Regions from separate parts of the Homo sapiens genome. Here region 1 is linked to region 2. The links come from fine-mapping of genetic effects on gene expression. Tissue or cell type: aorta. Region 2 holds a variant in brackets; the other region holds the start of a gene. All regions are shown on one strand. Distances are between the middles of the regions.

Region 1 (15,439 bases), 56 kb after region 2:
CAGAGAGAAAGTGAGAACTATCAGGGAAGAGAATGAAATGTGCCCTTCATATCTACAGTCCAGATCCACTGTCCAAGCTGAATGGAAACTTAAAGAACAGCAGCATCAACAGCATCTAGAGGTGGGGCATGGTGGCTCACGCCTGTAATCCCAGAACTTTGGGAGGCCAAGGCAGGAGGGTCACTTGAGGCTGGGAGATCGAGACCAGCCTGGCCAACATGGTGAAACCCCATCTCTACAAAAAATACAAAAATTAGCTGGGCATGGTGGTGGGTGCCTGTAATCCCAGCTACTTGGGAGGCTGAGGTAGAAGTATCACTTGAACCTGGGAGACAGAGGCTGCAGTAAGCCGAGATTGCATCACTGCACTCCAACCTGGGCAACAGAGCAAGACTCCGTCTCAAAAACAAAACAAAACAAAAAAAAAAAACACCCAGCACCCAGCACCCAGCACCTAGAAAGTCCAGGAGCACATGGGATGCCTGCAGGGTCTGTAATTGAAGATCGGCACATAATACAAGAAAGTATCCTAAGCAAAGTCCCAGGCCCTTCATAACTGCTCTTAGAATATGCGGAGTGTTAGCGTGTTCTGATTAACAAAAGTCTAACATCTATTCTTACTGGAATAAAAGAGTGATCATAACAGCAATTCTGACCCCTCCCCTAAGGTTAAGGAACAATGTTGACTGCTTCTGACATAACATGGTGTATTTATCCTGGGTAGGATAATTTGATGCTTGCCTTCCCACAGAAAAAGAAACGCTTAAAGTTTTTGGGTTTTTTTAAGAAAAAAGCAGCAAGTAGGCCAGGCACGGTGGCTCACGCCTGTAATCCCAGCACTTTGGGAGGCTGAGGCAGGTGGATCATCTGAGGTCAGGAGTTCAAGACCAGCCAGGCCAACATGGTGAAACCCCCTCTCTACTAAAAATACAAAAATTAGCCAGGTGTGATGGCACATACCTGTAATCCCAACTACTTGGGAAGCTGAGGCAGGAGAATCACTTGAACCCTCGGAAGTGGGGATTGCAGTGAGCCGAGATCATGCCATTGCACTCTAGCCTGGTCTACAGAGTGAGACTCCATCTCAAAAGAAAAAAAAAAAAAAGAAGCAAGTAGTAGTCAATAATTCACAACTATTTTAATCACTCCAGGGTATGTAAAAATATCTTAGGGAGCATCAGAAAACTTTAAAAAGTCAATGTAATTTTAATTTCAAATTAAGTTTTAAACTAATGGGCTAATTTTTCTTGTTTTGCTTTGTTTTGAGACAGAGTCTTGGTCTGCTGCCCAGACTGGAGTGCAGTGGCACGATCTCTGCTCATTGCAACCTCTGCCTCCCAAGATCAAATGATTCTCCTGCCTCAACATCCTAAGTAGCTGGGATTACAGGCGCGTACCACCATCCTCAGCTAATTTTTGTATTTTTAGTAGAGATGGAGTTTCACCATGTTGGCCAGGCCGGTCTTAAACTCCTGACCTCAAGTGATCCGCCGACCTCGGCCTCCCAATGTGCTGGGAATACAGGCGTGAGCCACTGCAATCAGCCCACAATGGGCTAATTTTATGTAGCTTTGATGTGGTCCCTTTCAAAGTGGGTAGGGAGTAAAAACGGCACAAGCAGAGGTCTGGAAACGTGCAGAGTCCCTCAGATTGAACTAAATTCTGCTCCACAGCAGCTCAGCAAAGTGAAATAATGATCTTCCTCACCTCAAGTTTCCACTTTTTCTCTGAGCCTGGAATGCTCCCACACTTTGTTATCTAAGAGGCCAGGGTGATTCAAGGGAAAGGGAAAAGGAATTCTCCCCCAAGATCAACATCTGATCAACAGAAATAGATCTGCCTTCAGGCTGAAACAATTCTCCACGGTCCCATTGTTCTTTGTTTTTCCCAAATGATGGAAAAATCTAATTCCAGAAAAATGTTAGTAGCTAGATTGTGACCATAGTGCTAAGAAGTTATGTAGCTTAAGATTTTAAGGGCTAACCTATTAAAGATCAGAATAATATCTGATCTCTTGACATAAATCTATTATATAGTCATATAAACAAAGCTCCCACAAGATGGGGAACAAAAGGGCCAAGCCTAAAAAGCCTTCGCTTGGAAGAAATTAAGTATGACTCGGGCTTGGGATGCTCAGGCTTAGACTTGCTGGGTCCAACTCAATATGGAGTAGGCAACAGTAATGATTAAGAAGGAGAAAAGGAAGAATAAAAACAGGTGCTTAGAACCACATTGGGAGCAAACTACATGAGAAGCGTTCAGAAAGTTCTAACTTTCTAACCATCAGGGAGGGGTTAGAAAAGTCTAGACTGCTGTCAGTAGGGCAGAGCTGAGGAATGTATGTTTGTTTGTTTCTTTGAGATGGAGTCTTACTCTGTCGCCCAGGCTGGAGTGCAATGGTGTGATCTCGGCTCACTGCAACCTCCGCCTCCTGAGTTCAAGCGATTTTCCTGCCTCAGCCTCCCGAGTAGCTGGAATTAGAAGCACGCACCACTCTGCCCAGCTAATTTTTGTATTTTTAGTAGAGACAGGGTTTCGCCATGTTGGCCAGGCTGGTCTTGAACTCCTGACCTCAGGTGATCCCCCCACCTCGGCCTCCCAAAGTGCTGGGATTACAGACATATGTCAAAGAAGAAGAAATCCTTTCCCTTAGTTGGACGTACCAGCCCTTCACAGGAATAGCTTCTGTGCAAGAGCATGAAGAAGGCCTCCAGGGTCCAGGGAGCCCTGGGAGAAGCTCCCTTTGAATCTCCCTTTGAAGCGGGTTTGAATCCTGTCCTTTGCAGACATGGATGCAGCTGGAGGCCATTATCCTAAGCAAATGAACGCAGGAACAGAAACCCAAACACTGCATGTTCTCACTTATAATGGGAGCTAAACATTGAGTACACATGGACACAAAGATGGCAACAATAGACACGGGGGCCTACGTGAGGGTGGGAGGAGGGTGAGGATGGAAAAACTACCTCTCAGGTACTGTGCTCACTACCTGGGTGCGAAACGATTGGTATACCAAACCCCAGTGGCACGCAATTTACCCACGTCATAAACCTACACACGTACCCCCTGAACCTAAAATAAAAGTTGGAAGGAAAACAAAATAAAAAAGACAATAAGGGGATTCGGAAGAACAAGGCAGCTACCCTAGGCCATCCCACCAGACAAGAGAAAGACACTTCCCTCAAACCCTTCTTGATGGGTGGAAAGAAGGGAGTCTCTTAACATGTGCAAATGGGTTCGTTAATGGAAAAAAAAAAAAAAAGTCCTTATTCCATGTGATACCCACATCAGAACTCTCTCTCCAGCAGTGTGTCACATTGCCCTAAAAATGTCTTCAATCGGGGACCGGAAGAGATGGGTCACAGCCCCAGAGGCCTAGACTGGCCTGGCCCCCACTATCATCCCAACTTGGTTGTGGCAAAGCCCATTGCTTTGGAAGAGTGATGATCATCAAAATGTTCCTCCAACTCTGGCATTTGGCCCAGATCGGAAGACTCTTTTATATTTTCATTCCCAACCCTTACGATCCCGACCCTTACATTTTGCAACCACCTTGGCCATCCTGCACCTCTATGTCTTACCAACTATAGTTAAGAATCACAGAAGTGGTAGCTATGATAGCAATTTCATTTCATTTCCCTCAGCACTTTTCCTTTCCTCTAAGACAATTTCTTAGGGCCCTGTGCTGTCCATGACAATCATACACAGTCAGGAACAGTCGTAACGGCTCACATGTATTGAGCACTTACTCTTTTAAGCATTACGCTAACGGATTTACATAATTATAGTTTTTACATATTTAAATCATATTGCATTAGCCCTCTGACATAGATCAGGGGTGTCCAATCTTTTGGGCCCCATTGGAAGAAGAATTGTCTTGGGCCACACATAAAATACACTAACACTAACGATAGCTGATAAGCAAAAAAAAATTGCAGAAAAATCTCGTAATGTTCTAAGAAAGTTTACAAATTTGTGTTGGGCCACATTCAAACTGTCCTGGGCTGCAGGTTGGACAAGCCTGATATAGATGCTACTATTGTCCCTGTTCTGTAGAAGAGGAAACTGAGGCTCAGCATGCCAATCTTCATCTCATCTTGTTCTCATACTTTGGGAAGAACTCCTTATCCAACAGTAAAGCTTCAGGGATCCAAAGTTTATGAATGGTCTTTTTTAACAGCTGGGAGGTAAGGAGGGATAGCAGGAGAGAGAGAGGGCATACGCTAATACTCTCTGATCTGGGCTTTTGGAAGAGTATTCTTGATTCCTTTGGTCACAAAATTCACACAAGGTGTAGCTATACTATTGTTTTGCTGTGGCACAGGATTTAGCCAATTCTTACCCTACTGTCTTCCTGGATTTCCCAGTCACTGGAGAAAGTCGCCAGCTGCTGCCCTTGCGAACAGTTTGAAAACTGGAAAAGGCTAGAAAACATCCTTCTGTTCTCTTGAGTGTCTGGGAAGATGGCATCTTGGAAATTGACTCCGTGAGGCAAGAGGTTATAATTTTCATCCATCCTAATGGAGGAAAAAAAGGCAGACATGTAGGCTAGACAGTCAAGGGTGTACCAGCTCCAATCCAGAGTCACAGACAACTGCAACGGGCTTGCCAATTTCACATCAATGTCTGGCATGGCTCTCATTAGAGGAGTTACTACTTCTAATTATTTCTTTGTCTCACGCTACATCAGTCTATCCTTAAGGTTTTCAAAAAGATGAGTTTGAGCAAAGTATGGAGAAAACTATGTGTATGGTGCCTGTTTGTCTATTTGTGTTGTCTTCCAAGTCCCCCAAGGGGTCTTCCTTCTCAAAGAGTGTTCCTTATTTCCTGGTGAAAAAAAGGCCAGCTGTCATCACCTATGTTTAAGTTCTGTCTTTGCTATTTATCTTCTGTATGACATGAAACAAATGTCTTAACTCCTCTAAGCTTCAGTATTCTAATCTGCAAAAAGAATATAGTACTGGCTAGGTGCGGTGGCTCACACCTGTAACCCCAGCACTTTGGGAGGCCAAGGCAGGTGGATCACCTAAGGTCAGGAGTTCGAGACCAGCCTGGCCAACACAGTGAAACCCTGTCTCTACTAAAAATACAAAAATTAGCTGGGCACGGTGGCACACACCTGTAATCCCAGTTACTCAGAAGGCTGAGGCAGGAGAATCACTTGAACCTAGGAGGCGGAGGATGCAGTGAGCAGAGATTGCACCATTGCACTCCAGCCTGGGTGACAAGAGTGAGACGCCATCTCAAAAAAAGAACATATATAAGTAAAAAATAGTACCTACTTTTCTGGTGATGTCATAAGCATTGCATCAAAAACCTAAGTAAATGAAGCACTTGGTACAAAGTAAATGCAGTATGCATGTTAGTGAACACATTTAAAGGCCTAGCATTAATCAATTAGAATGATTCTTTAAAATGTCACAAAAAGAAAGAGATGAAAGTTACACTCCAGTCTACAGAAAACACGTAGGGCTCACCAGCAAGTCTCCGTTGCCACCCTCACCCCTGACAGTGACCACAGGTCCAGTTTCATCTCAGTGGGTCCCAGAATAACAGAGAAGGAATGATTTGTGTGTAGTTGTTAACACACTCCAAGGCAAGACAGCCCTGTGAAATGAAAATGTCAGACTACTGTCTTTGTATTTCTGCCCTAACTTTTGTAAACATGGTAGAGCAAAAAAGATGAGAATTGGCTGAGCACCACGGAACTATTGGACAAACTGTATTTCATGATAAAAATTTCTTTAAAAAGCCTGCTCAAACACTTGGGCTCTTTTTCCTTTGGAGAACAAAGTTCTGGTTTTGAATAGTTTTATAGATGGTTTCTCAGTATCTTTCCTAATTAAAAACATGAAACCCTAAGTTTCTCTGTATCGAGAAGGGCACTCTCTCAGTCTCACTGGCTTTATTTAGAAACTACACTTCTCTGGAAATACATACATATATATAAAAACTTAATCTAGCTGAACCACTCAAGCCAACACAAAGCAAGACGTGTTTTTTAAACTTAGATATTCTGGCTTCAATATGGAAAACATGTGTTGCCATGCACTTACAAACACCACTTTGTAGAACTGTTTTCTTTCTCAGAGAAATGCGAGCTAAAAGTGAATCTGCAGACCCACGTCAGCCTCATTCCAAATATCCTCAGTGCTACTTCCCAGACTGGGAAAACGAACTACAACCGATCACCCCAACAGTGGATTAATTTACTATCTTGATAGATAGGTTAGATTCCATTTTGATGTTTTTCTCAGTTGTTTTATATCACTCTCCAAATTCCAACTGAAGCTAACCAAAGAATTTAGAGTTCTACCTGGCACTCTCTATTCAAATTTCAGAAGAATTCAGTAGTCAATGAGAATTGACTGAATTCTTAGGCAGATGCATTCCATCTTGACCACAGGCCAAGTTCTGAAGTTCATGGAACTTCAGAAGATTCCAGTGGTCTATAATCAAAGAGGACCTCCTGGCCTGGTTCACCTCTCCACTCCTCAAAGCATTGCTACCCAGGATTTTACCAGCAGCAGAACCCCAAGCCCTAGTAAACCTTTGCTATTTCAAAGAACCTGGCAGCTGATATGAGACAGTGAAGCAATCCCGGGCTACATTCCACACCATTCACATCTTGGCATTTGAGCAAATGAGGAAGAGGAGAGAGTGGACAGCTGGTCAACTTCTAACCTGCACCAGGTGCTTTGCATGAGTTACGTTCCTCACTCAACCAGCCCTGTCTCTCACTTTACACAGGTGAGGCTATGGAAGTTCTTGAGAAGGTGTCAAGAAATGCGCTCAGAATCACGGTTAGGAAGGGCAGAGCCAAAATGCCAGCCACAGACTGATTTCAAAGATTGTTTTTCTCACCGTCCCAATCTACTCCCACTGAGGCCAGTTTAAAAACCCAAGTCAAAGGGACTGTTGGAGGGCGCTTTGAGCTTCTGTCTGCAATGCTCTTCTGTGTACAAGGCACAGAAACCTTCCCTGTCTTTTAAACCGCCTTAACCAGGGGTAGTCAGGATGTCTGTAGAGACGTCAGACGGAGCAAGAAAGATCCAAGAAGGCAAGGGGTAGGCGCCCCAGGGGCATTCTCACTTGACACCGACAGGCTGCCCGGGGAGTTACCGGCCTGGCTCTAGGTAACGGCGACCTCGGGAGGTGGCGCAGAGAGAGAGAGAGGTGGCGGCGGCGCCGCCGGGCTCACCTGAGGAAGAAGAAATAGGAGTAGTCCTGGACCACGGTGTGGGAGTGGCACGAGAAGTAGCCCAGGCCGGTGAGGTTGAGCCTGGAGCCGGCGGGCACCTCCAGCATGCTGCCCCACGCCTGGTCGCACAGCATCTCGACCTCGGCCGAGTAGAAGAGGCCCCCCTGGCCGGCGTGGTACTGCCAGGGCAGGTGGTTGTAGAGGCCGGGCGCCTCGGGGTGCAGCGCCAGCACCCTGGCGTACACGATGGTCTCGGCCAGCTCGGCGCGGCAGCCCTCGCTCAGGGGCCTCCACTCGGAGGGCAGCTGGCAGGCGCGCGCGGGCGCTGGGGGACCCGCCAGGCAGAGCGCGGCGAGCAGCAGCTGGCGCAGCATGCCGGGCCCTCCCGGGGCGCACGGGGCGGCGGCGGGGAGCCCGGGGAGCCCGCCGGCCCGGGAAGGGCAGCCCTGGGCGCTCGGCTGCTCGGGCCGCTCCCGGGAGCTGAGCGCACCGCTGTCTCCGCCACGGGGCTCGGCATGCCCGGCCCTGGCGCGCCACGCTTTAAAAGGGTCCCGGGGACTGGACGCGCCGGGCGCCCGCCTCCCGCCCTGCCCCCTGCGGCTGGGGCGTGGGCGGGGGAGGGGCGGGGAGTCGGGCGGGTCCCGGCGCCGGCTGGGGCGGGGACCAGGGACTCGGAGAACGCGGGGACGCCGGGACCCAGCCCTGAATTGGGGACAGTGGCCCAGCAATCTCCTGGCGCCCCACGATGGACGTGGTCCGAGCTTGCCAGGCGTAAAGCCTGTTTGCAAACGCAAGGCATTCATTAAAGAATGACTCTTAATTTGCACGATTACTGCCTAAGTTTTTACATTTTCTCTACATTTCAGAGTAAAAATACATAGAAACCAAATCTGACTTTATATTCCCAGAGATTAGGAAATTCAGTGTGGGCTGAGATCTCGTGCTCTCTCAGATTTGCTAGTTATTTAATGAAGATCTTAGAAAAGCTTTGATAAAAGATTCCAAAAAGCAATCATTTGGCCCTGATTTTCTTGGTTTCCATAATCCCTGATTCCATTTTCTAAACACTGTACACCTGAGAAATACATTCAGAAGTAAATCCCAAACAGCTTTTCACATCAGTGAGTGAATTTGAGGATACTGACTCCACAGTTCCATCTTTATCTCTAAAGGCAACAGGTTTTTTGTTTTGTTTTTTGTTTTTTTCTTGAGACAAGGTCTATATCTGTCACCCAGGCTGGAGTACAGTGGCTCCATCAGGGCTCACTGCAGCCTCGACCTCCCCTGGGCTCAGGTGATCCTCCCAGGTCAGTCTCCCAAGTAGCTGGGAATACAAGCACACTGCCACCCCGGATAATTTTTTGTTTTTAGTAGAGACAGGCTATGTTGCTCAGGCTGGTCTCAAACTCCTGGGCTCAATCGATCCTCCCACCTCAGCCTCCCAAAGTGCTGAACTTTCAGGCGTGAGCCCCCACATCCACCCTGAATATTTAAATTATGCAATTTCATAATGCTATTAGTCTCCCAGGGCTGCCATAATAAAATACTCTAGTCTGGTGGCTTAAATAACAGACCTTACTTTCTCAGAGTTTTGGAGGCAGGAAGTCCAAGATTAAAGTGCTAGGGTTGGTTACTGGTGAGGCCTCTCTTCCTGGCTTACAGACGGCCACCTTCTCACTGTGTCCTCACGTGGCCTTCTCTCTGTGTGTGATGGAGAAAGAGTGAGCCCTGGTCTCTTCCTCTTCTAACAAGGTCACTAGTCCTATGGGGTTATCACCCCACCCTTATGTCCTCATTTAATTACCTGCCTGAAGACCCTATTTCCAAATACAGTCACATTAGGGAGTTAGCACTTCAACATATGAATTTGGAGGTGGGAGGGGAGACATAATTCAGTCTATATGAGCTATTTAGCAGGTGTTCTGCAGGTTTGCTAGAGAAAGAGAGCAGGGATCCCAAATGGTTTATATTCCTGGCAGGCAGACTCACAGCACACACTGCCAAGTTATAATAAGAATTGCTAAACCTTAGTCATTGTTGACCATGGGCCAATCACTGTTGTAAGGACTGTACATATGTCATCTTAATAAATTCTCCAAACAATATTCTGAAGTAGATATAACTATTATCCTCATTTTACAGATAACAGGCACAGAGAAGTTAATTGACACCAAAGATCACAAAGCTACAAGTTGACCAAGCTAGGATTCAGCTCCCAGCAATCAGACTCCAGATCCATGTACTTAACTACAACACTAGAATAGGGCCAAATATAGGAAATGCTCTAAAGACACAGGTCGGCCCTTTAACCAGGATATACACAGAGCAAATTAAGAGAAAACCTTAGCAGAGTCACCAATGATGGCTCAAGGAGTGTGCAACTGACCTAACATTAATTTTGTATGACCCAGAATCCCTGCTCTATTTTAGTCCTATACTGTAACTCATCAGATAAGATAGTAAGAAAGTTTTTCTTACTAACTGCATCTTCAAGTGTCTTGAAGGCCTGGAAAAGATTTGTCTACCCCAAAAGACTGTAAGGCCCTCTCTTTTCTTTCCACATAGGTGAGCAAATAAATAAAAATCAGCAAACATGGCTGTTTTTTCTCTTGTTGTATAAACTTGACAGAATCAAAACTCTTCCAATACTTCCCACAGTGTATTTTGCAGAAGTGAGCACCTGCAAGAAATCGTCCTCATGGATTCAGCAGACACATCAGTCATGCTTTTCTCCCCTGTAAGATCTGGCAGAGTGCCTCACTGATTGGGTTTCTCTTCCTGATTGAGCCATTGCAGTGTACCGTAGTGAGCAGTTCCTCTTTGGGGACTAAGACTTCCAAACAAGCAGAGCTCAAGGTAGCCAGGAGGGGAAACAAAACTTCTGTGAGTGAATTATTGGGTTTAATAGTGACATGAGCCACTTCCATCTCTTGATTCCGAGACCTATATGTCCTGGCTGTGGGGTGGATAGTACCGTATATGTATGTTCTGTTTCAAAGCACACACAGTAAGTACACTTTAAGATGGACTCCATCATTTCAGTGTGGTGACTCCCAACTGACACTATAATTAAGTCTTCACTAAACTGTTACATCCTTCAAAATTTGTCCAGTTGCTTCCAGGTGATGGGACATGTGGTAAAACCAGTTAATTCTATGGCCTTGAGACCACTGCTGCACTTCATTGCTGTGAAAGAAGCAATGCTGTGGGAATCATTGATCAGAAACATCACTATGGGAAATTCCATGATGGTGGATAAGGTGCCCCATGAGTCCATAGATGGTGCTACTGGCAGAAGCATTATGGCAGGGAAGGCATATCCGTGTCCAGAATGTGTCTATTTCAGTGAGGACAAATCTCTGACCCCCACCCCCCACCCCAAGATGGAAAAGGTCCGATGGAATCAACCTGCCACCAGGTGGCTGACTAGTTCCCCAGGTGAATGGGGCCACATTAGGGGATCCATGTTGGCCTCTATTGTTGACATATTAGGCTCTCAGCAGTAGTAGTAGTGTTAGCTAGGCCAGCCGTGGTAAGAGGAAGTCCACATTGTTGAGGCAATGAATACCCTCTGTTTCTGCCACCATGGCCACTCTGTTTATGGGCTCATTGAGTAAGCAGTAGAGTGGCCAAGAAAAGAGACTGACAGACACCCACTGAGTACATCAATTGCCCACCTAATCACTAAGAACTTCCCCTCCACTGAATGCACTTTGGTCATCATTCACATGGGTCACAAATATCTTCACACTTGGTAACCGTTATAAGATGTCCATTCATTCACCTCTTCCCAAGATGTCCTTGTCATCAATCTTCTGATCCTATTTCTTTCAAGTCCCTAACCATCAACCAAACCACTAGCAACTGCCCACGAATCAGTGTCCATGTGTACTCCCAGCCCTCTCTTAGTCTAGACATAGCATACAACAAAATCTGCTGCTCAAAGTTCTATCGACTGGGAGAATTTTTCTTCACCAGTGTCCTTCAGGATCACCCATGAGTGAAACTGAGTAATATCTGTGTGTAATACAGAAAAATCTTCAAACCAGTCTTGTTATTTCTTCCTCATTCAACTGGAGTATCTTCAAGAGGCCATAAACCATATGAGTGGAAGAGGCAACGTACCTTCAGAGTCAAAGGAATCTAAGCCACTTGCCCATGCAACTTGCTTGCACCATCTGGACCTGCCCAATCCCAGTCTCTTGGATACCATTTCCATTTAATGGTAGATTGCTGCTGCGCACACATGGCCTTATGTCTAGGAGGGTCATACAACACCCAATTCATGATGAGAAGTTCAGATTACATAGTCACCCAGCATACCATGGTTAGGCATTCAATCTCTACCACAGCCTAGTAGCAAGGGAGATGCTATTTTTCAAAAGGCAAACAGCCATATCCAGAATAAGGCATAGATGTGCACTAAAACCCCAGAGTTTTGTGCTGTGATTTTCCTTCTGGTGCTTTCTAAAGACTCCATACAACATTCCTGTTTGCCATAAATACTTTATCACTGGACCTTCTAGATAATAAGGCTCAAGTGATACAGTGACTTGTACACAGCCTGAACTTGCTGCAGAGACTTCTCAGAACTTGCTCAACACCACTTGAAACTGGCAGCCTTAGAGATAACTCTATAGATGAATTCAAAAAGCATTTTTAAATGTGGCATATGTTCCCTCCTAAATACAAAAAGGCTGAACATACATTCTCCCTCTTTTCCCATTTAGATCATCCAAGGACCAGCAACTTTCCTTTTGCCTTGGAGGAGTGACAATTGAGCCCCCAGAAACCATACTGAGGTGGCAGGTCCCTGAATTTTTGTGGGGCCTATCTCCCACCTTATATCTTACCAAGGCCTCTAAAGTATATGGTGTTTCATGAACATCAGATCCATTCATCATACTGTCATCCATGAGGTAATCCAATGTGATGTTTTGTGGAACGTCAAGACAATCAACATCTCTGCAGAATAAATGTGATAGAGAGCAGGAGAATTGACATAGCCTGAGGCAAAACTGAAAGTATACTGTTAGCCCTGACAGGTAAATGCAAACCGTTGCTGGCAATCCTTGCAAATCAGTGAGGAGAAAAGGGCAGGTCAGTAGCTACGAAGCAAATGCTGGGAGACATATCAATTTGCTCCAGGAAAGATACTACATCTAGGACAGCAGCTGGAATTTTAGCCACCACCTCATTAAGTTCATAGTAGTCTTCAGTCATTCTTCAAGACCCATGCAACTTTTGCACAGCCCAACTGATGAGTTCAGTGGAGATGTGATAACTATCGCCACTTCTTTCAAGTCTTTGATGGCAGCATGGATTTTTGCAATCCCCTCAGGGATGCAATATTGCTTCTGATTTATTCTCTTGGTAGAAATGAAAGTTCTAGGAGCTTCTGCTTAGTCCTTCCAACAATAAAAGCCATCACCCATGGGTCAGAGAGAAAATGTGGGGGTTTGTCAGTTGTCAACTTTGGTCCCTTTGGAGAAGTCTTAGAGGAGGATTTATGGTGTGTGCATGTGGCAATGGTGCAGGGTCCTTCCTCAAGGGCACCTGGCTTACCTTTCAGTCAAAAGGCTCTGTGTCTATAAATTTACTTATGTCTAAAAGCTAGGTAAGGGGCTTCAGTTCCTCTCTGTGGGAATTCAAGTCAGGTTTTCAGCTACCAGAGTTTTTGCTGTTACATAGATCAGGCACTACACCCACAGGTTGCCCACATATTTACTTTCAAGAGACATCATGATCAACTATCCACTGTCAAAGATCTCTGCCAATCGAAACATTCTGATTACTAGTATGCCCCTCCCGACCTTTACGGTAGAGGTACTTACCTTCCCTTTGGCAGTTAAGTGCTGCCGTTTGACCCCTTTTCGATGGCATCATCCTGTACTAGAGTCATAACTTTTCTAGAAAGAGGAGAAACCACAGAGATGTTCAAGGATGCAGTACTTCCTTCATTAATATATTTCTCATTGCTGTCGTGAAGGAAATACCTCTGGGTCATCTTGTGGAATGTAGTTGGCAGGTGGCTGTGCAGGTCACACATCGAGTATTCAGTTCAACCTTCCTAATTCCCTAAGCCTTTGGATTCCCTCCTTTACATTGTTTCAGGGAAGCTCTGGCATCTCAGCCAGCATGGAATTCCTTCAAATTGTAGTCAACCAATCAAGTAAGCTATTAGAGTCACCTCTAGAAGTATATTAAATTTATACTCTCAAACGCATCAAAACAATAAATTTTGCCAAAACTAGTATTATATTCTGCCCACTTTGGTTCTGCCTGGAGTCTGCTGATATATATAGGCAGTCTTGCAATTTCTTTAGTGTCTGGGCTATTTCCTCCTGGATTATAGTGTGTACCTGTCTCCCGGAACATGCTGAGCTTTTACCTTGGTTATACCACTAGTTGAACTTAATTATGACTACAATTGCCTTATAAAAGACACTTCTGAAGCAATAATGGAGCTACCCTCTCTTAAAGATAGACCAAGTATGGTCAAATATGTCCTTTCTTCCCAAAATAATTTTTTTAAAATCCTAATACAAAATAGTGGAAAATATTTTAGTTATGTAAAAAATATTTTAAGTTATTCATGAAAAATAAATGAGTGAGTTCTTCTTCTTTCTTCTTCTCTATCTCTTCCTGAAAAACTCCACTCTAAAAGTCTTTAGCTGGGGCCAAACAAGTTAGGTCTCCAAGCTGGGGCAGGATAAGAGATGGAAGAGACATGCAAGATAGGAGGAGCTTCTGTCTGGGGCTTCCTACTGCAGGTGTGAACCACAAGGGGTGAGGGCATCAATGCAGAGGAGTGGCCCACTATAGGATATGAGAGCCCAAGAAGGGTTAAGGAGAGTCCCTGGAAAAGAAGAGCCTGTCATGTGGTCTCAGGCTCCAAAACCCCATGACAGGGTACCCTGTTATGGGGTTGACCATGTGGGAGGGCAGCATTTGCAGAGACTCAGTGTCTAGGCAATAGTGGCCTCCTAGGCATGCAGCCCAACATGGGTTTCAGAAGCCAATAGGGGTAACATCCACAAGGATGTCAGTGCATGAGCAAGAACAGGGGACTTCCATGTGAAAGGGCATGACCCAGTTCAGAGAATCAGAGCATGGTTAGGGTGAGATGAGTGTCCATGCAGAAGGGCAGCCCAAGCCAGGGAGTCAGAGGCCAAGCAGGGTAATGAGGATGTCCATGTTGGGGAAGGCAGCAGCAGTGCGGTGAATGCCAGACTCCAAGTGTGATGTGGAAGGCATGGCATGAGCTATGGGATGGGAGTAGTGATGGGAGAATAGTTACACACAAGAGGTTGATCAAATAAGCAAATCTATTAAGGAGGATGGAAACCAGTTTCTCACTATCAAAAAAGAGAGTTACATATATGGAAAGAAAGAAAACTACAATGGATCCTGTGGTGGTGAAACATGAATTCATAGATTTTAATAATAGATATAGAAATCAATATAGTTGCATGTGAATTTGTGGATATACACTTTTATCTGTCCCACAAGTCTTAGAAATATATGTTATATGCTTACAAAAAGAGAATTCTTGATAAAACTCAGTAAGTTAGCAATAGAAGGGAACTTTCTCAACCTGATAAAAAGCATCTATGCAGTCTACTGCTAACCTTTCACTTAATGTGAAAGACTGAGTGCTTTCCCTTAAGATCAGAAACAAGACAAGGATGTTCAGTTTCATCACGTCTACTCAACATAGTACTGGAGGTTCTAGTGCAATAATTCCATAAAATAAAATAAAAAGCATCCAGATTGGAAAAAAAGATGTAAAATTCTATTTACCCATGACATGATCATCTGTCTAGAAAATGCAAATGAATCTACAAAAAAGCTACTAGAATTCATAATCAAGTTTAATAAGTGGAATACAAGATCAATATACAAAAATCAATTGTATTCTCTTTACTAACAACAATTGGAAATTGACATTTTTAAAAATAATACCATTCACAATGGCATCAAAATATATGAAATACTTAGAAATAAATCTCATTAAATATGTAAAAGACTTATACATTGAGAACTACAAAACATTACTGAGAGAAATTGAAGAATATTTTGAAAATGGAGATATATATTTTTTTCATAGGTTGGGAGACTCAATATTGTTAAGATGTTCATTCTAGCCAAACTGATTTACAAATTAAATGCAAACTCAATAAAAATCCCAGTGGACTTTTTGATAAAAATTGATAAGCATAGTCAAAATTCCATATG
Region 2 (15,032 bases):
TAGGGTTGGAAGGAGGGGTTAGCATTTTCCTCCCTGAACAATGGTATTTCCAAACTAACCTCCACCCACAGAGAGGAATGCTTCAGCTTTTGAACTCAAGCCATCTAACTGTATCACCATCTATACCTCTTCATTTGGTCACTGCTGGCTTTCTGATCACCAGTCCACACGTTCAATACTTTTAGCCCCCAGTCCTCTTGTCATTGTAGCAATGACATCAGTAACCACATGGATAATGCATCCAGCACTGGCTGCCACACTTGGCTTCAGCTACTTTCTCCTGTGGCTATCCCCACTGCTACGTCATCAGCTGGAACTATTTCCCCTTTGGACCACAACCTTCTAGAGGCAGTGCAGTATAGCGTGAAAAACTTTGGCTTTGATGCCTGGGTACGAATCCCAGCTTTGCCATGTACTAGCTAGGAGACCATAGACAAGTTACTCAATCATTCCATGCTTATAAGATGTGAATAACAGTAGTCCTATCCCAGAGAGTTGAGTTAATGTGCAAAATACAGAACACTGCTTGGCACACAGAGCTATTTATGCACTGGCTTCCATTACTATCCTTTCTGATTGCTCGTGCCTTCACTTCTTTGGTTCCTTGAACTCCTCCCACCCTCTTTTTCCCTCCAAAAGTAACTATTGTAACTATTTACTCCTGTCTTGTGCCTCCTTCCCTATCCAGCCACACTGTCTCCTATATAATGCCTGCTTAATAGACATTTGTATCATGGGTGAATGAATCAAGGATCCATAACCTCACCTGCGTTCTGGTCCATAGCCCCAATCCCCTTGCCTTCTTGTCTTTTAAATAAACACACACAATAAATATGCCAACCCCAGATCTAACTCTAGCTCCACTATCTTCTCTCCTCCTATCTCTGAGAGGTTGGCTGCATCCACTACAAATTCAGAATCTCCAGCCTCAATTCTGCCCAGCCTTTACGTGCCTCAAGTCAGCTCTCTTTCCCAGTCTTTACAACAGTGACTTTTAGCCTTTAACGCTTTCCTATCACTTCCGCATTCGCCCTTATCAATGACCTTGCTTCCTACTTTATAAATCTAGTGTTTCCAGGCCAGTGGACAAGGTGTCCTTCTGAGTAAGGTAAATTCCTACTCCCGTGTTCCAACTTCTGTCCAGTCCATCAGACCTGAAGCTTTTAAGCTGCACGAGAAGAAATCTTTCTTTATATTTTATAATAACTGTTAGTAGAGGCTGGGTGCAGTGGCTCACGCCTGTAGTCCCGGCACTTTGGGAAGCCAAGGCAGGCAGATCTCAAGAGTTTGAGACCATCCTGGGCAACATGGTACAAACCCATCTCTACTGAAAATACAAAAATTAGCTAGGCATAGTGGCATGCACCTGTAGTCCCAGCTACTTGGGAGGCTGAGGGGGGATGATCGTGGCACTGCACTCTGGCCTGAGTGACAGAGCCAGATGCTGTCTCAAGAAAATAAATGTTGGTAGTATTCAACAGATGGTAGGAGCGGATCAATTCTGTCCAGATGAGATACCCTGGGAAAGCGGATCAATTCTGTCCAGATGAGATACCCTGGGAAGGCCAACCTCACATGGGGATTATGCAGAAAAATTGCTTGATATGACATATTCTGATCAAATAGTAGTAATTACCCAAAAGGGTAATGAAATCAAGGCCTGGCCAATCTCTTTAAGAGTCAGAGTAACAACAACAACGACAACAAAACCCTCTTCTTACAGCCAATGATTTAATAAAAATTTCAACCATTTTGCTAATTCACTTGGCTAATTCTAAGAATTTTCTGAATTTCAAGATTGTTAGCTATGGGAATAGTTCAAAGGTCGGAGGCCTTTAAAAATAGCATTGACCTGGTCAAGATGGATTAAATGCCCATTCTAGGGCCTTAACCCATTCTAATTCCACTTCTGTGTTAATATATCTGACCTAAATGTCTAAAAACATACTGTTTTTTTTCTGAGAAAGTGCAGAACCCCATTGGTGGATGTTTTTACATAGAAAAGAAAACAGCTTAAAATATATCAGACTATTTCAGTTACAGAAGCAACAACCCAAAAAGAAAAAGAAGGCATCTGGAGAAAGAATCATTGAAATTGTTTTTTTTTTTTTTTTTTTTCCCTGAACCAAACTCCAGTTTACTGTTTTTCCTGGGAATGTGATTTTATAGTTGGGAAGTGAGATGTTGGCATGGTGGCTGACATTTCAAGTATATTATTGGTGCACAAGAGAATACAATGAAAAGATCAGCAAGAACCTCAAAGTCTATGGCCTCTTGAGAGTTATATTAGGAATGGATGAGCTTAGATGTCTACAGAAGTCACCTTAAGGGTTAGGGTGGTTCCCTAGTCAAAGGAAGAAAATCAGGGAGGCCTGAAGTATAGTAGAAATAAGATAGGATCCGGGGTCAGATACCCAAGTTTGAATCTTAACCACTAATTAGTTCCATGACTGTCCAATCATAACCTTGTAGAGCCTTACCTTACAGAATAATCGTATTTACTTCCTATACTGGTGGTACCGAGCAAGAAGCTAAGTAATAAGTCAATCATACGTAAGAGGTAGGCAATTTACCCTTCTCCCTTGCCTTCTGCACATAAATTTAAATGAGGCAGAATTAAGTGAGAAAGAGCCTATAGCCTAACCCTCCATGTTCCAAGTTCTGCAGAAGAAAACTGATCAACAGGGAAGAACCTGACAAGATGCTGGGAAGGGGATCTGTGGACTTGACAAGGCTTACCCAGCACTGTCCAGGGACAGGAAAGGGAGGCACTGAATTTAGATCCCTGAGTAGGAATTGCTGATCTTTGCACTTGTGATACTCTGTGGGTGTGGTCAGACATGTATGAACCAGAGCGACTCCATTTTGTGTAGAGGCTGGGTAATATAAGGCTGAGACCTACTGGGCTGCATTCCCAGACAATTCAGGCATTCTAAGTCACAGGATGAGATACGAGGTCAGCCCAAGATAAAGGTCATAAAGACTTTGCTGATAAAACAGGTTGCAGTAAACAAGCGGCTAAAACCAACGTGGTGACGAGAGTGTCCTCTGGTGGTCCTCACTGCTACACTCCCACCAGTGCCATGACAGTTTAGAAATGCCAAGGCCACATCAGGAAGTTACTGTATATTGTCTAAAAAGGGGAGGCATAAGTAATCCACCCCTTGTTTAGCATATTACAAAGAAGTAACCATAAAAATGGGCAACCAGCAGCTCCCAGGGCTGCTCTGTCTATGGAGAAGCCATTCTTTTATTCTTGTACTTTCTTTCATTTTACTCCATGGCCTCGCCTTGAATTCTTTCTTGCAGAAGATCCAAGAACCCTCTCTTGGGGTCTGGATCAGGACCCCTTTCTGGTAACAGGTGGGCTTCAGAGGGCTATGTGCACATCTTGGCACTGAATACAAATGTTGCATGTATATTAATGTACTTATCTGGGAGAGGATTCATCACCAGACTCTCAGAGGAGTCTGTGACCAAGAAAAGATTAAGATG[A/G]CTGCACCAGATGCTGAAGGGAAGCTAAGACATACTAAATTACAGGAGCCCATGAGTCTGAGGTTGAGTTCCTACATAACTTAGTATAAAAACAAACTGGGTTGGGAAACCACTGATCTAGCCAAGTTAGTCTCCAAAATATGCCGCTTTGGCATAAGGATTATTTCTAGCTGGTTATTTTGAGACCCCTTTGTAATAGAAAATTCCATCTATTAAGGAAGGAGATCTCCATTTGTAAGAGTGCCTTCCTCTCTGCACCAGGAATAGGAGGAGGACTAAGTAACTAAAGAATGGAGACGGCCTTGAATCATCTACTTCAAAAGTCTTACCTTTGTTGAAGGCGGTTTTCCTGACCATCTTCTTAAATGGGCCTTTACCTATACCCTTCTTTCTTTCTTTAGGTAAATGATAGTAATTAAGCCAGAAGTCTATGCTCTATGCCTTTGAGATGTCCATTTTCTCTCTTGTTTTCTCTAGAACCTTACAGCTAGCCCTTTGACATGGAAATTTTAAGGGAGATGACTCATCAGAAGAAAAATGACATTTGGGCAAATGAAAATTCTTGTCTTTTCCACAAATATTACTAAAAAGCTTTGCTACCAGAGCAAGTAATCTTAACTTCTTCCATCTGCCAGAAACATAATTGGAATTCAGCTATTCTGTAAAGTAGTAAATTTTGTGGGTTTTGTATCTGGTACTGATACAGGAGCTAAAAAGAAATTTAGGCAGTTGGTGAGGGTAAAAGTCGTCGGCAAAGTTTCCCTTTTAATAAAAAGCAGCTCCAAAGTCATTTCTTTTCTAAGAAAGAACAGTCTGCAAAATGAAGCTACAGACATAGAAAAGCAAGCTGGAAGCTTGCACGGGTGAATGCTGGCAGCTGTGCCAATAGGAAGAGGCTACCTGGGGGTGAGTCATGTTCAACATGGACGCCCTATCTTCCCTTTTCTTTGTCAACCACATGTACAGTAATGAAGCAGGCAACATGGCACCGGCCAGGTAGAGACCCCATCTGCATAATAAAAGATTAGGGTGGGGTGGCCAGCTTCTTCACCTGCTATGCAAGTGGCACACCTGGTCCTACCAATCTTTTGTCCCCTGTGTAAATCAGACACTGCCTCCTCAAGCTCTTCTATAAAACCCCATGCATTTCACCACAGAATCAGATGACCCACTTGGGAGCCCCCCTCTCTCCAAAGGAGAGAGAGCTTTTCTCTTTCTCTCGCCTATTCAACCTTGGCTCTTAAACTCACTCCTTGTGTGTCCTCGTCCTTGATCTCCTTGGTGTGAGGCAAAGAACGTGGGGTATTACCGCAGATGAATGACGCCATTTCAGTACATGCCTAAATTTTAAAATGAAACCTACAACAGAGGGCTCTGTCTTTATGTTTATTTCTCTCTGTAGGTACGTATGTGTGATTTTTTTCTATCTTCAGATGGTATTACCAAAATTAAGTTATAAAAGAGCTTTATTTAATTGGCTTAAGCGCTTATATAAATTAAGTACTCCTTAAACTCTTAGGAAAAAAATGAATCCAAAATACCTTCCAAGTTTATGTGTTCTAGGATAATCTTTGGTTAAAGTTTGTCAGTTTAATGAAAATAGAGTGGTCAGCATTAGATAGTAAACCAAAAAATACAATTCTAAGCACCCCCCCGCAAACGACTACATGGAACCCCCATCTTGGCCAAGGGAACCCCGAAGAAATGTGAAAAACTAGTTTAGGCCATGATGGTGATGAGGTAGCTAAAAAGAAATTATTTAGGCAGTTAGTGAGGGTATGAGAATCCTCGGTAAGGTTTCCCTTTTAACAAAAAGCAGCCTGAAAAATCAAGCTGCAAACACAAGCTTGCATAGGCAAATGCCAGCAGCTATGCCAATAGAAAAGGGATACTTGGAAGCCAGGTATATTCAACATGGAGGTTCCCTCCTCCCTTTTCTTTGTCGCCACATGTGCAGTAGAAAGGCAGGCAACATGGCGCTGCCCAGGTAGAAACCCCATCTGCATAACAACAGATTAGGGTGGGATGGCCAGCCTCTTTGTGTACTATGTAAATGGCACACCTGGTCTGACCAGTCTTCTGGGCCCTATGTAAATCAGACACCGCCTCCCCAAGCTTGTCTATAAAACTCTGTGCATTTCGCCACAGATGAGACGACCCACTTGGAAGACCCTCTCTCTCTGCAGGAAGAGAGTTTTTCTCTTTCTCTCTATTAAACCTCTTCTCTTAAGCTCACTTGTTATGTGTCCACATCCTTGATTTCCTTGGCATGAGATGACGAATCTTGGGTATTTACCCCAGACAACGTTGCTGCTACAATGGGAAGGGACAGGTTCCACTGGCCTCATTTCACCCTCCTCCCTTAAGAGTTGACATACAACCGACCAGTGTTAACATTAAAACAGGGATCTTAAGACTGACAAAGCAGAGTCTTTGTAGCAGTAAGATACCAAAGTGACTCCAGTAGAGTACCACATGACAGATAACAGGCCCTGAAGGAAATTATTTTACCCCAAAATATATTTCTTTGACATATTCCAAAATGGCCCTACAAAGCTCTCTCTCATGGGGGAAACTTGTGTTCCATTGAGAATCTCCTTCCCTTACTAGAGTCTGATACATTTTAGGGTCCAAGAAGACATTCACCATCCATTCTCTCTGACGCCTGCTACCTGGAGGCTTCATCTACGTGACAAGAACCTTGGCTTCCACAACCCCCTTCTCTAAACACAAGCGTTTTTTAATGCTGAATTCAATTCTTCAGGCAGAGCTTAACTCTTTCAACCAACTGCCAATCAGGAAATGTTTGAATCTGCCTCTGACCTGGAAGCCCCTGCTTTGAGATGTCCTGCTTTCCTGGGCCGAATCAATGTATTCATTTCATCTATTGATTTATGTCTTTGCCTGCAATGTCTGTCTCCTTAAAATGTATAAACCAAGCTGTAAACCACCCACTTTGGGCACATGTTCTCAAGACTTCCTGGGGCCATATAATGGGCCATGGTTCTTAACTTAGGCAAAATAAACCTATAAATTGATTGAAACCTGTCTCAGACACTTTCCAGTTTAGAAATATAATACAGACTCATAACTTTTCCTACCTATGTTTACTAGTAAAATAAGCTCATGTTACCTCTGTAGTACAAAATTTGTTAGCAAGAAAAATAACTTAAGGTGACGGATACTTAATGTCTCATTGTCATGAGCAATCCAAGTATAATTGTTAAGAACAATGAATTAGATGTAGGAAAAATATTCCCATGGGAAAGGGGTCTTCCCTATACTAGAAGGTTTTAATATTCTTACCAAGGATGGAAGTTCAGGCTGAGGAAAATGTGTACAAACAACAATTTCATTCTCAGGCCTAGCCAAAAATTCTAATAAGGATAGAGATACAACTTTCCCTCCCCTATAGCTTTTTATTAGAGACTAAAGATAGCTGAATCTGTTAGTAAACATGTTCTGTGTCACAATGAAAAAAATTATTCTATGAGGAAGCACATGCTTCTAGAAATTATGATTCATAAATTTGTCAATCTACAGACAGCTAGTGTAATAGGGTTCACAACTGCTTGCTTCCTTTCACTGGAAATTAAGATGATTTAGTATATAACTAAAATTACCAGAAATAATACGGGAAACAACTCTATATGCAAGCATACAAAATAAGTAAGATGAATTTTCAGAAAATCTATAAGGTAGGAGAATGTGTTTTGTTAAAGGCAAAAAGAGAATAATTTTTGTCCTAAAATAGAATGGCATTGTTCCACAGTGAGAAAAAAAGTATAGGGAAAAAAAAAACCCCGAATGGATATAAGAAAACTGTAGGATGCTTGTAAAAGTAGAATCATGGGAAAGGAATTATATGTGTGATCAAATTCCTAATATTTGCTAATATTTGAAGGGAATTAAGTTGCTTTTAAATTCTAACATTAATATCAAAAGTACGCTGATACAAAACTAGAATGTGGTCCTCTGTGTTAAAACAGCAAGGTTTTCTTGGAGTTCTAGTCTGCTCTTAATAAGATAGGGTAAAAGGTTTTTCTTTACCTTTTAAGTAATTGGTCTAGGAAATAAAGACTGTTTTATCAAGATAATTTCCCGTGCTTCATGTTGTCTTTGCTCTTCGATTAAGAAAATGGAATCATTTCTAGTAAAAAGAACTAAGGTTTTTCTATAACTATGTTCAAGTTATTTAAGATAACAAGGTTGCCTTTGACTATCTGTTGGCTGAATGGGGTGCAGTGTGTGTGTGATAGCTAACACCTTCTGCTGCACTTAGATAACAAACAGGCAACTTGGTTAAAACAAGTAGATTCTTCTGCCTAATTCTTTGGTTTAGTTGGTTGTAATTGGTTTGGTTCATGGGTGCATTGGTTAAGGAGCATATTTCAGTCTGTTAGTACTATCCTCCTGATACGTCATCATAGTAGTATCTCTAGGGCACTGTATTCTCTCAAGAGTCTTAAATGCGGCCACCCATTCTGCCCCAAATGGCCTCACTCCATTTATAGCAGCAAAACCACAAAGGGAACATAACAAGTCATTCAACAGACTTGATGTCATGGCTTGTGAATTCCATACTGAAACCAAACATGTCCACTATGATAGTGACTGACAGGCAATAGCATCAGTGTCTAAGGCTGCGTCAATGTCTGAGCATCAGTGTCAATCTTGAGAGGCTGACCAAAAAGGGGAAATTGTTCAACTAGCAGAGGCTGTCTCTGTACTGTGAGTTTCTACATAACAAACTGCACCTTAATTTATTAGTATGTAAACAAACTGAAAACTAACTAACTTAGGAGTATTTTTTTTTGGTAACAAATAGCCAGGTCTCAGCAAATCCTAGGCAGCCAACTGATCCGATCATGCCCAATAAGACAAATGCCCAACTGTGGCTAATCAGGTCATTTCTCTACTTTGCTTCCTGTTCGGCCTAGAGCAGCTCATGGTTCACACTACTAAGCAGAGCTCTCTGAACCTATTCTGGTTCTGAGTGGTGCCCGATTCATGAACTGTTCTTTGCTCACATTCTGTTAAATTTAATTTATCTACAGTTTTTCACAGGTATTGTATTTCACCATGCCCTAAGACTCAAAAACTCCATTTGCTATTGTAGCAGGAAAAGGTGTTCTTTCTTCATTCTGTCTTCTGCCTTTTCCCTCCTTTAATCAACATGCATTTTCCCTCCTATTTGGGAATTATTACCTTATTTGGTAATCATCTCATCCTGTACTACCTCAAAATTATACTTTCCTAAAGATCCTGTCACTACATTCAGCCCCCTCCGCCACTAGCATAAGGGAGGATGGAAGCCAAGAAGAAATAGAAAACCGAACGGAAAAGCAAAAGACAGAGGCCAGCTCTCTTATTGCTGGTTTTCCTTTTTTGTTTCTATCTCCACAGTTTATTTTCGGTCAAAAATTCTGCCACCCACAGCTCTGTCTCCTTAGTTTTTTGGAGTGCCTGATGTAGTTTCAAAGTAATGTAACATTCCCATTCTCATCTTTTGCTCACTTTTTTTTTTTTTTGTTTTTTGGAGACAGGGTCTTGCTTGGTAGCCCAGGCTGGAGTGCAGTGGCATGATCTTGGCTCACAGGAACTTCTGCCTCCCAGGTTCAAGTGATTCTCCTGCCTCAGCCTCCCAAGTAGCTGAGATTACAGGCGCCCACCACCACACCTGGCTAATTTTTGTATTTTCAGTGGAGACATGGTTTCACCATGTTGGCCAGGCTGGTCTGGAACTCCTGACCTCCAGTGATCTGCCTGCCTTGGCCTCCCAAAGTGCTGAGATTACAGGCGTGGGTCACCACACCTGGCCTGTTCACTTCTATACAACAAATATTTCATGAGCTTCCACCATGTGCCAGAGTGTTGGGTGCTAAAAATACATGAGGCACTGATAAAATGGCCTGTGACTTTGTCACCTCAGCTACAGGCCACCCTATATGGTGTTTTATATTTTCAAGTAGATTATACACTCCCTGTGGACGGGAATCTAGATCTTCTAATTATTTTGAGCCAGGCAACAGGAGCTGGACAAACAGGAGATACTCAGTACCTGACTGAGTAGAATACATTGCTAAGAGTTGGGCTTAGCAGTAACTAATAAATTGATAATTAAGTGCCTCTTGTATGAAGAGATGAGTTAGAGGAGAGCAGTGGATTGACTTCCTTTAAGTCCTTACCAACGGGTCAGGTATTGTGCTAAGCACGGCCTCCTGACAATCCTGTGGTGTGCCTGCTCTTATTAGCATTGTCCCTCAGCTCATAGATGGGAGAAACAGAGGCTCAGAAGACAGACCCAAGATGTCTCACCTATTAAGTGAAATTGGAAGACCCAAGCTTTGAACACATGCAGCCTGACTCCAGAGCCCAGCTCTTGGTCGGTGATACAGTTTGACTCTGTGTCCCCACCCAAATCTCACCTTGAATTGTAATAATCCCCATGGGTTGTGGCAGGTAACTGAATCATGGGGTCAGGTTTTTTCCATGCTGTTCTCATTATATAAGTCCCACGAGATCTGATGGTTTTATAAAGGGCAGTTCCCCTGCACACACTCTCTTGCCTGCCACCACATAAGATGTGCCTTTGCTCTTCCTTCGCCTTCCACCATAATTGTGAGGCCTCCCCAGCCACATGGAACTGTGAGTCCATTAAACCTCTTTCCTTCATAAATTACCCAGTTTTAGGTATGTCTTTATTAGCAGCATGAGAACAGACTAATACAGCCCATATACTAAACTGACTCAGGATATGGAGGAGACCAGGGCCTCTCTCTCAGGCATGTGTGATATCATGGTGAAGAGTTTGATGTGGCTAAAGGCAGGCAGACAATTGCACACACACACACACACACACACACACGGGAGGGGCCACCTTCAGCTCCAGAACCCCGTGTGTTTTCTCTACCTTTGGGACTTTTCCTAGAGTTGAAAAAGTGTATCTCTTTCTTCAACTCTAATGTGAGAGTCATTGTCAAATAGAGTTTGCCCTTCTTTAGACCACTGGTCCAACACCTTAAATTACTAGAAGCGCTAAATTTGGTGACCAACTGAAGACGAAAAGGGGTAAAAATTTAAGTCCTCATTTTTAAGGCAGTTTTTTTTTTTTTTTTTTTTTTGAGACAGAGTCTTGCTCTTTTGCCCAGGCTGGACTGCAGTGGCCTATCTCGGCTCACTGCAAGCTCCACCTCCCGGGTTCACGCCATTCTCCTGCCTCAGCCTCCCGAGTAGCTGGGACTACAGGCGCCCACCACCATGCCCGGCTAATTTTTTGTATTTTTAGTACAGACAGGGTTTTACCGTGTTAGCCAGGATGGTCTTGATCTCCTGACCTCGTGATCCACCCGCCTCGGCCTCCCAAAGTGCTGGGAGGCAATTCTTTTATATCTCATGACATTATGGGGATACCTACATAATGTCCTCAGTAGCTGGGCCATGAGTGAACTGCAACATCACAATTTTGGGGGCTCCTGGGAGCAAACACTGCTGGTTAGCTAAATAGCAGAAGAGCCAGACACAACTGCCAGTGTTCCCCTTGTTTCCTCCTTAGTAAAAGCTGCTAAGAGAACTCTGTAACTGGGCACATGGCTGCCGGGAATAAAGACCACATATCCCAGCCTGCCTTGAACCGGGTGTGGCCACATGAGTAAGTTTTGGCTATGGGATATAAGCAGAAGTGGTGTGCACAGCTTCAGTGAAGTGCTTCATAAAGGGAAAAAGCATGTCCTTCTCTTACTCTTTTTTCCTTCCTGTTGGCTGGAATGCAGACGTGATATGGCTGGAGCTGCCATCTTGGACCAGGAGTTGAACTTAGCCACGGAGGCCATGCTCAGTGGAGCCACCCGATGGAGGGATCTGACACTGTGGAGTTCCATTCCAGCCTGGACTTCACACAAGAGAAATAAACATCTACCTGAGCCAGTATTACTAGGGTTTTCCAATACTGAAGCTGAGCTGAATCCTAAAGAATACACACTACTTTCCCCAACAAGATACATAACTGCCTTGCTTGCTGAGAAAAAAATTATAATCGCAGGTTCACTTTCCTAAATCAATGTAAGTAATAGCCTGGCCTGGCTCTTTTCAGGAGATCCTATCAGATCCTGAAGCAAAAGACTATTCCAGTCTTAATACCAGTATATCTGGGTTTTCTGCCCAGAGGAAAGTGCAATCATGACTTCTAAGGAAGCAAATGGTAATGGGTGCAGAGACTGTCAAGAAATTAGGTGGTGAAATCAGGCTGAGGTCATCTCATCTAATGTATATTTGGTGACCGTGTAGACCCAGAGATACACACTTCAAAGCAGCCATGTGGTATCCATATCTGTGTGCCTACTTTGGGTTCACACACCTGTGTTCTCTCCTAGTTGGTGCCACCTGTCACATCCAAGCCCATCATCACCTCCTGTGCTCATCTCTGCTGTCTCTTCTCCATGCCTTCACTCTGGCCATGCCCCCAGCCTCCCATTCCCTTTCCTGCATCTACTGTTCTCTCTCCTTGTAAAAGCTTTCCTTGCCCAATCCAGACCACATGGGTCCTTTTCTTGTCCCATCTCCTATAGAAGCTGTTACCAGTGCCCTGACTAACCCAAGGCCTTCCTCTGCCTGCTGGAGCTTAATAATTATTGAATGCATGAATAACTACACATGACAAATAAGGCCTCAGGTGTAAGAGTTCAAGCTAACAGGAAATGCTCTCCAAAGCACCCTCCGGAAAGCAGTTTTAAGAGAAAGAGATTCAACCTAAATGGTCAGGAGGATGCTCTTCCCAGGGGTTTGTTTCAATTAAAAATACAGGCATCTGCTGGGATTAAAAAGCAACAATCTAAAGAATTCATCCACCACCCCATCAGATTCTAGCCATTAAGACTGAGATCAGTTCAGATGCAAAGAGCAGAACGAGGCAAATTGTTCTCTACTGAAACAACATGAAATGCTTTCATACTTTGGGGTTGGTGACCCTAAAAACCTTGCACTTGGTTATCATTTTTTTCTCCTTATCCTGGACTTTGACTTCCTCTCCTGTATACTGTTAGAACACAGAAGGCAAATGCAAACATTTCTACAGTTCCTGACTCCTCGCCCATGTCAGAAACCCTTAGAAGCACCCACATACCACACAAGCTCAGACCTGTGGGCTTCTCTAGAGAAAGGCGTCATGACACAATCACATATTCAGCACTGACAGACTCTGTGAGGAAGATATGGGGGGCTTGGGGGTGGCTGCTCCCCCACCACACCTGACTCCATTTAATGCCCAACTGGAGTAATCATGACAGGTCAGCCTAGGTCACCTTGAGAGGGGCTGAGTCTGCAGTAGGGTGCGTCTGTCTGGCCTTCCTCGATAACACGAAGGTTGAGCTTTCTCTGGCTCACTCTGCACAGTAGCTTGGGTTAGAAAAGGCCAAGCAGGAGCTGAGGCAATCAATCAGAAAGTATTCAGTGAGCACTGTGAGAAATAAAAAGTTTAGGCCAAGCACAGTGGCTCATGCCTGTAATTCAAGCACTTTGGAAGGAATACTCGAGTCCAGGACTTCAAGACCAACCTGGGAAACATAGTGAGACTCTCATCTCTACAAAAATAATTTTTTTTAATTAGCTGGACATGGTGGTGTGCACCTGTAGTCCCAGGTACTCGGGAGGCTGAAGCAGTAGGCCAAGCTAGAGAGAGCTGTGATTGCACCACTGCACTCCAGCCTGGGTGACAAAGTGAGACTGTCTCAAAAAAAAGTTTAAAACCCATTTAAGGAATGTTTGACCTAATGCGATGGCTCCTAATCTACAGGGCATGATCCATTAGCAGTGGGCTGTGAAATCCATCCGGGGGTCTCTACCAGCATCTGTAAATAAAGCAGGGTGGACAGGAAGTATCAGGCATCATTTATGCAGTTTTGTGACACTCTGTGGCTCACGCCTGTAATCCCAGCACTTTGGGAGGCTGAGACGGGTGGATCACAAGGTCAGGAGATGGAGACCATCCTGGCTAACACAGTGAAACCCCGTCTCTAACTAAAATACAAAAAATTAGCTGGGTGTGATGGCATGCGCCTGTAGTCCCAGTTACTCAGGAGGCTGAGGCAGGAGAATCACTTGAACCTGGGAGGCGGAGGTTGCAGTAAGCTGAGACTGAGCCACAATACTCCAGCCTGGACAACAGAGTGAGACTTCATCTCAAAAAAAAAAAAAAAAAAAAAAAGTTGTTCTTTGTGTGGGCTACAGCCCAGAGCACATGGAAGCCACTGATTTCATACACAGTGGAGAGGGATCGCTGGTGTTTTTGTAAGAACTCCTCTTTTTATGTCTCTTGTGCATTCACCTTCCAAGAAACTCAGTCCCTGTCTGTACCATGTCTAGTACAACCTTCTGGTATCTTCACCATAGGCCACGAGTATACCCTTTGGACAGATAAGGAAATAAAGGTACAGAATAGAAATGACTTCTAGCCACTTCTAGCCGCCTAGAGAACATAGCCAAACTGATCGTGCCCAAATCAGGTGAGACCAAGAAACAGGCTCATGTGGTTCTCCCCAGACCATGAACATATTATCTAGCAGGCACCAGATAGAATGTGACCTCAGGAGGGAGAAGGTTTTGTTGGTTCACTGCTCCATCCTCAGTTCTTAGGATAGTTCCTGGCACAAAGTAGGCCCTCAATAAATATTAGCTCAGCAAATCATTATGACTTGATGATAGAATGAATTAGGACAATCCCCAAACTCAAAAATAATCTTTTACGGTCATGGACCATGTATTGAACCCAACAAAGAAATCATGTTTCATTGAGGTGCAAATGAATATACTCAGGTAGACTGAGAGAACAAAACAGAACCCAGAATGTATTTCTCTCCAGCTTGAAATGTTTTGATGGCATTCCATCATCTAGAATAACTCCCAGACTAGCCCATGATGTGTCTTCACAGCCGAGTTCCCCTCTTACTTTCCAGTGGCAACTTCCTCCTCCTTGCCCCATTTTGAACTTCATCCTTTGGCATTGATGAACGAATCCGAATTCTCCAGGTGCATGTGGCTATTTTATGACTTGGTGACACTGCAAATTCAGTGTTCTCTGCCTGAGATTCCAGTCATTTTGGGAGCCCAGCAATTTATCACCATCCTCCTTCAAGCCCCAGGCCAGGTGTGACCTCAAAGCCTTCCCTCACCACATGCCCTTAACCTCAACCTCTGCTGAGTAAATGAAGTTCTCATCCAGGTTACCACTGTACCATGTGCACATCCATGGGTTTATTTCTATCATCCTCTTGCAGTTCATCTGGTTAGATGTTTTACTCTGCTTTCCTTCAGATTTTGAGCTTCTTGAGGGCTACAGTTGATCTTATTCAAAGAATATCAAAGGAAGGAAGGGAGGGAGGGGTAATCCACACAGTCCTGTTGGACCCCGTATTAGGCCGTTTTCACACTGCTGATAAAGACGTACCCGAGACTGGGTAATTTATACAGGAAAAAAAAAGTTTAATGGACTTACAGTTCCACACAGCTGGGGAGGCCTCACAATCATGGTAGAAGGCAAGGAG

Direction of the effects. Positions count from the first base shown, and alleles are read on the strand shown. Sizes are in standard deviations (SD) of each study's normalised expression.
As copies of A replace G in region 2, the expression in aorta of the gene that starts at base 7,718 in region 1 goes up (small effect, 0.31 SD a copy in GTEx).

The links. PIP is the estimated chance that this variant, and not a neighbour inherited with it, causes the effect.
Region 1: CCDC3 starts here. The variant in region 2 is the best candidate, but not a certain one, in a credible set for the expression of CCDC3 in aorta (GTEx, PIP 0.54).

The regions. Positions count from the first base shown.
Region 1 is chr10:12,993,996-13,009,434 of GRCh38, forward strand. CCDC3 (coiled-coil domain containing 3) reads right to left here and starts at 7,718. Exons shown (of 3, transcript NM_031455.4): 1 at 7,202-7,718; 2 at 4,343-4,517. The coding sequence starts at 7,575. RefSeq lists enhancers at 6,847-7,347, 7,348-7,848.
Region 2 is chr10:12,938,132-12,953,163 of GRCh38, forward strand. The region is part of intron 2 of CCDC3 (coiled-coil domain containing 3); the gene reads right to left. Among named protein-coding and RNA genes, the nearest start is that of CCDC3, 56 kb to the right of the region's middle. The variant A/G (reference allele first, on the strand shown) is at 3,496.